Linked DNA regions of Homo sapiens. The protein of the gene in region 2 purifies or fractionates together with the protein of the main gene of each other region. This does not show direct contact. Each region holds a gene or a part of one and is shown on either strand. Other genes may lie near its edges.

The links. The genes of interacting proteins can lie anywhere in the genome.
Region 1: the proteins of ST8SIA3 (region 2) and KLRG2 purify together in Homo sapiens (affinity purification with mass spectrometry; 2 studies listed by BioGRID and IntAct, with this or other methods). This does not show direct contact.

The regions. Positions count from the first base shown.
Region 1 is NC_000007.14:139,452,674-139,456,173, forward strand, and holds the end of KLRG2 (killer cell lectin-like receptor subfamily G member 2), read right to left. Parts: intron 1,542-3,500; coding exon 1,438-1,541; intron 1,035-1,437; coding exon 914-1,034; 3' UTR 17-913; downstream 1-16.
Region 2 is NC_000018.10:57,365,994-57,369,431, reverse strand, and holds the end of ST8SIA3 (alpha-N-acetylneuraminate alpha-2,8-sialyltransferase ST8SIA3), read right to left. Parts: 3' UTR 501-3,438; downstream 1-500. UniProt on the Homo sapiens protein: Catalyzes the transfer of sialic acid from a CMP-linked sialic acid donor onto a terminal alpha-2,3-, alpha-2,6-, or alpha-2,8-linked sialic acid of an acceptor, such as N-linked oligosaccharides of glycoproteins and glycolipids through alpha-2,8-linkages.

The sequences.
Region 1 (3,500 bases), on a different chromosome or scaffold from region 2:
GGTCTAGCTGGACTCAAGGAACTACACAACTCTGTCAGCCACATCCTCCAGCCTGAAGGTCTTCACTGCACCCCAGCATGGAGACATCTTCAGGTTGGTCGTCTCTGCAGCTGTGGGTAGAAGAGCTGCCTGGAACGTGCCTGCATTTCTCTGATTTCCTTTTTCACTCAGACTCCTCAGCTTCCACCTACCAAGCTGGGGTGCTCTCCTGGCTTCTCCTGCCAGGTGGCCCTGTCCTCTCTGCCTTGTCTCACCCTTGGGCATCAGCGTGCCAGGGGCTGGCCAGCCCACATGCGGGATCTCCACCCAGAACCTTCCTGTCTGCCAACCCTTTGCCAACTCTCAGGGTGGGGAAGGAAAACCTTGCTCTCCCCTCTTTCCAGGGCTGACCGCTCCTTTTCCTTGGTTAATTTTCCAGAGGCTGCCGGTAGGCTGTGTCCGATGTACACCCAGCTGCCTGAAGTAGAATTCACAGCAATGACGTTATCCCTGCCAAGTCCCACTGCCACTGAACAACGGCAGACTCATTTCCATGAGCCGGAATGAGAACCCAGATTGGAATCCGCTGTGGTTGTTAACCCTGTCTTTTTCCTCTAGGGGGAAATTGTCATTTTAATGAAACCAAGGCACAGAAATGCTAAACAACCATCCCAATGTCATCAAACCGATCATCCACAGAAGCTGGAGACTAATATTGGCACTCAGGCCTGAGGCCATAGAAAATCTCCTTTCCCTCGGATGCATCTTCCTGGGTTGAAGTCCAGCTCCTAGGCTCGCTCATGTGGCCCCCTTGAGCAGAGCATGAAGACCTGGATAACTGGGTCCAGGAAGAGGCTGCCCAAGCTCTCAACTGGCCTCCCCTGTAGGGGGTGCTGCATCTGCCTGGCAGGCTGAGGACCAGGCAGAGCCCAGATCACTGGGTCCCCTTGGCACAGACCCAGGGTCTTGGAGTGCTGCAGTTTGCAGCCACCAGCGTGCCTTCCTCCAGGGCCCCACAGTTGATATCCAGATTGTCCTCGCCGTCCTCAGGGAGTCTGGGAAAGGATGGGAGGGGAAAGAGGAGAGGTGTTTAGGGTGCCGGGGCCTTGCTTCCCAGCCAGACCCTCCAGCGTGTGTGCCTGTCACCTCTACCGGCCTGGGCACTGAGTGAGTCACTGCACTGGTCAGCCACGTGGCACTGGATGAATCCCCAAACCTCCCTGGGCAGCTGACCCCGCATCTGTAAAATGGGGGTGACAACCCTGCTTGGGTGAACGTGCTGGGAACCCAAATAAAGAGTGAAGCGACAGGGTCTAATCAGGCACCAGGCCGCGAGCATGGGCGTGGGCTGCTTTCCAAGTGGCATTCCAGGCTAGGGGAGCAGCAAGGAGGTGGAGTCTGGGGAGAAATGGAGGATCCAGAACAGCAGAGGAGGGAGAAAAGCCCGTGGTCACTCACAGCTGGGGCGGGAGTGGGGCCTCGTCGATCCAGTGCCAGCCCTGGGGGCCTCGCCAGGCCCCCACCCAGGAGTGCCTGGAGACTGGGTATCTGCCCAGGAAGTCCTGAGGGAGAAAAGTAAGCTGGTCACTCCCCTGGACACTGGCGTGGCTTGCCTGGGGCGTACGGATTCCCTGGGGCTTCCACAGGATCCCAGCTGGCCAATCCAGAAGGATCTGCTCAAGCCAGCACTTGCAGAACAAAAAAACCTTGAAAGCTGGATTGGATGCCTGCTGGGTGCCAGGTTCTGTGCTCAGGGCTGGGGGCCAAAATGAGGGTGACCCCGTCTCAGCCAAAGGGATGTGAACGCCAAACACCACTAAGTGATGCTCAGTGGGCATTGAGTGGGCAAAGAAACAAGGAAGCTCAGAAAGCGAGGGAGGTGGTCAGGCACGGTGGCTCATGCCTGTAATCCCAGCACATTGGGAGGCCGAGGCTGGCAGATTACCTGAGGCCAGGAGTTCGAGACCGGCCTGTCCAACATAGTGAAACCCCGTTTCTATTAAAAAAAAAAAAATTAGCTGGGCATGGTGGCGGGCGCCTGTAATCCCAGCTACTTGGGAGGCTGAAACAGGAGAATCGCTTGAGCCCAGGAGACAGAGGTTGCAGTAAGCCGAGATTGCGCCACTGCATTCCAGCCTGGGCTGACAAGAGGGAAATTCTATCTCAAAATAATAATAATAATAATAATAATAATAATAATAATAATAATAATAACACACGCAGATGTGCAGGAACAACAAAAACCAAAGTAAGTGTGCTGGAGAGGTACTAGAGGAGACTTTTTTCTTTTAAATATTTGCCCTCAATGTCACACTATTTTTAACAATGAATTAAAGCAAAAAAGACAATGTTTTAAAGTATATATTTAAGATTTTTTTTTTTTTGAGATGGAGCCTTGCTCTGTCACCCAGGCTGGAGTGCAGTGGCACGATCCTGGCTCACTGCAGCCTCCGCCTCTCAGGTTCAACCGATTCTCCCGCCTCAGCCTCCTGAGAGGCTGGAACTACAGGCATGCACCACCACACCCAGGTAATTTTCGTATTTTTAGTAGGGAAGGGTTTTGCCGTGTTGGCCTAGGCTGGTCTTGAGCTCCTGGCCTCAAGTGATCTGTCCATTTTAGCCTCCCAAAGTGTAGAATTAGTGGTGTGAGCCACTGTACCCGGCCAAGATTTTTTTTTTTTTTTTTTGAGACAGAGTCTCGCTCTGTTGCCCAGGCTGGAGTGCAGTGGCGCGATCTCGGCTCACTGCAAGCTCTGTCTCCTGGGTTCACGCCATTCTCCTGCCTCAGCCTCCCGAGTAGCTGGGACTACAGGCACCCGCCACCATGCCTGGCTAATTTTTTGTATTTTTAGTAGAGATGGGGTTTCACCGTGTTAGCCAAGATGGTCTCGATCTCCTGACCTCGTGATCCGCCTGCCTCGGCCTCTCAAAGTGCTGGGATTACAGGCGTGAGCCACCGCGCCCGGCCAAGATTTTTTAACTTGGAAAAAAAAGTTTAAATCTTTTAAGTCCCAGGGTGGGGACGTGGTGGAGGGGGCAGTGATGCCGGCACGGCCCGCATCAGCTTGTTCTTTCTGAAATGTCGTTTGGTGCTATGTGACAAGAGCAGCACCACCACTCCTGCTCAAATGGGTGATTTCACTGAGAAATAAATCCAAGAATATAAAGGGAAAAAAATGAACTTATCTAAAGATAACACGGTGCTATTTGTGAAGAAAAACTGGAAACTCCCCAAACGCTCAGCAATCAAGAAATAACAAGGTAAATTATAGGATGTCAACATGATGGAAAATTATAGTGCTATTAAAAATGACAAGTGTATAGAAAATGTCATTATGCAGGAAAATGTAAATATGAAATCATGCCATGTAAAAAAAAAAAGACTACACTAGCAAGTACATATCACTCACAACAATGTCAAGAAGCACATATTCACACTGAGGCAGGTTAGGAGCAGAGCGGTATAAATGAATTTCGCATATGCTCAGTTCTTCTTCCCTAAGAAAATGGTTTAAGTCAAC
Region 2 (3,438 bases):
GGGGAAGGTTCTATGAGGAGGTGATCTAGAGAGAGCCTGGGATGGGGTGAAAGGTACAGAGGAAGGAGAACTGGACAGGGAGTCAGGCTGAGTTCTCATTTTGACTTGTCACTTAACTGCACAGCAGGGACAACTCCCTCAGCATCTCTCCCTCACCTGATTATTCATTAAATAAAATGATGTATGTAATAGTAACTTTCAAGAGTAATGTATTATTATTAATAATGTTAAGGCCTGTCACATGATTAGCATTTAAAGGACCAATGGAAAAGTTATGTGTAGGGACTTTGAGTATTTCCTGCTTGTTCATGGCTGTAGACAGCCAAGCTCACCCTTTCTGGGGTCCTACAAATTTCCAACGACCTCAAAACACTGAGAATATAAAACAGGAGGAAGCATTCAATCTCTTCACTGGATGAAATGTGAGTATGTGTTAGCACATGTATGTGTGTGTATGTGTGTGTGGGGGCTCTCCCGAATGTGACAGACAACCAGCAGTGTTTCCCAAAGCAAAACGAAATGGTTTATTTAAAAACAACGCATTCAGTACTGTGTTTGGAACACAAGGCAATGAGGCAGGCACATTCACACTTAACAAGTACATTTGAGGAGCTGTCGAAGCAAATGGTTGCATTTTCTTCACAAACTACAGTCACAATATACACGCAATTGCCTCTGTCCTTGTTCACCAAGAAAGCAGAAGATATTTACAAGTTCCTCAGTCTAGCAGTGCTGGCTTCTCTTGGGTCTCTGTGGCCCTCACATTCTGGCAGCTTGTTTCCAAGGGCAGGCGAGGCTGCCTGTCACAAGGGAGGTCAGTCTGATTTGTTAAGGCCCTCGGCTTCTTCCAAAGAGCAAGAGAACTTCTGACAGAGTTGGGAAAGAGGGAAGTTTTCAATACCAGTATCTCAGCATAAAATGGCACTTTCCAAAACAAATGCATCAAGTGTTGAGTGACGGGGTGAGCGGGCAGGGAATCACGGTATTAACAATATAAGAAGCATTTATTTTCCCTGACACATACTTCTTGCTCATTTATTTAATAACTTACATTCGCTATTCTTCTACTTTTTGACCTTTTGGTTTCATCATTACTCTTAAAGAGCTTTGCTCCTCCTTCTATACTGATACACTATTCTTTAAAATGCTGAAATGCAATGGTGAAATCAAAGTATGTTAAGCGAGAGAAGATATCACAAACATTCTTTTGTCTTGACTTCTAATTAATGCTTTCACAATTAATTGTCAATGTCCATCTAACTAATGGAAGCAGCACAGTGTGGTGTAGCAGAATCAGTGGTTGGGAGACCCAGACTCTAATTCCAGTTAGCTAGCTGGGCAAATAAGTCACTCCAACTTTCTGAACCTCAGTTGTCTCATCTCCACATGGAGGATGTTGATCTGGAATCCTGACTTGAGATAACATCTAGATCTGTAAAGTTTTGCTATGGACTTAGGTGGTTGTCCCATGTGAGTAAATGATAGTGTATTGCGATGTTTCCATACATTTGTTTTGTGTCCTGGGAGAATTTCAGTGCTAACTAATGATGCTTGGTGACCGGATCTCAGCCTGTTACTCAACTCCTCCCAGGGCTCTTGGCTGTAAGCGCTCTTGTGCTTTTCTGCACAGTATGGGTTCAGATCTGGATCTTGAAATATGGCTAAAGAGCACTTCTAACATGGGGTACAGTTATTCTCCATATTAAAAAATGGTCTAGATTCCTTCAGAGGGAAACCTCCCTCTTCTTTTTGCAAGTACTTCAATGACTTTATTCCACTTATGCAGGTTGACCAAACCTCTTTCCCATTGTCTGCCAATTTTTCTTCCCTGCCAATTTTCTTCCCTAAGACTAAAAATGCTATGGGAGTGGCTGGTTCCTCAAGAATGGTTTTCTGGTGAATTTGTTCATAATAAAACAAGGCCTACCTGTCAAGCCCCTTGTGCTTGTAGCTGTGGACTTCTCTGTTTGGTGTCAGGAAAAGAGCCAGAGGGTGAAGGCATACTTGTGCTCAGGCTGCATGCAATGTATTGGGAATACAGACATCTGAACATGCACCTGACTCATTTAAAATAAAATGTAGCTTGCTCAATGTAGAGAAACAAGCTCATTTCAATGACCATTAGGAAGAAAGAAAATAGAGGTATAACCTGGCATTTTACACATAGTATAGAAAATGTCCAACTTGCGTTTCAAGCATTTACAGTTTAGAAATGCCTTACAGAACCTGTAGGGTATTTTATTATAGCAACGGAAGTAGATTTGGTCCTTCATGATCTAATTTTGATTTAGTACATGCAGATAACAACTTACGGCCACTCACTGTGTCCTAGGAATTAGGCATATTTTTTCCCAGCATTGCCTCTCCAAAGATTTAATGAAGCCCACCTAAGAATGACTTCTACCAGAAAAATTTGCAATTTGCAAACAAAGCTTGTTCTGTGGATTACCAGATTACCTGATTTCTAAACACTCAGTTGGAAGTACACTCACAACTAGTGGTGAGAAAGGACAGTTGCTCTATTGCTCAATGCCAGGGGACTGCAGGGGCCAAATGTGTATTAGTAGATTTTTGTTTTTCATGGTCCAGCCTTACATCACATGACACCTTATCCTACAAAGTTTGCCCAGTCAGCAATGAAGTTGCCCAGAGATATTCCTACCAAGTGGTATTTCTTCACCGTTGGAAACTTTTCTAAGGGCAAATCAACTCCAGTTGAGTGCAACTTAAACTCTCAGCGTGATGTTTACTGGGTGTCCCCTGGTGGGGTAGAGACCTTGGAACCTCAGTGCCTTTCCAGATATGTAGAGCCAAGTGAGCTTACTGGGTGCCTTGTTCTTCCCCTGCTCCTTTGCAGGCACTGTTTTGTGGGTACCTGTATTTTTTTTATTGTGTCAGAAGGATGAGGGGCAAGTGGATAGGGAAAATGACAAAGTTGGGGAAACAAGTGATGAACTATAGGTATAGATTTTTTAAAAAAGATCAGCCAAACATGGTTTTAACTGGTAGTTAAATTAAAGAATGTTTTCCTGGAGGGTCACCCTTAGAAATTAGAAAAGCCACAGTTGGTAATCTCCCAAGATACTGGGGAGTCTGTTGAGAGGTTCCTAAGAGTCACGTGGAATATTTGAACACCTTGGGATCCAATAATATGCTCTTTTACTAAAAATCAGTAAAACTAACCAACATGGAAATGCTTCCCTTGGTGGAGGGGACATTTAAAAGTCCCTCCAAAGCCTCTGCTAGCCTCTCCTATTTGGTACTCACTGACTTAAAAATTGTTCAGGCAGTGCTATGCTGGAGCTGGCTCATGCTGTATTGGAGCCAACTTATACTGGCTCTTGAAAACATATTGTTGTGTTTTCAGCTGGTTGACATTAAGTTAGTAGCCTGAAATTGGCTGAGATGAGAGTATTTACACCATAGAAATTGGTAGGT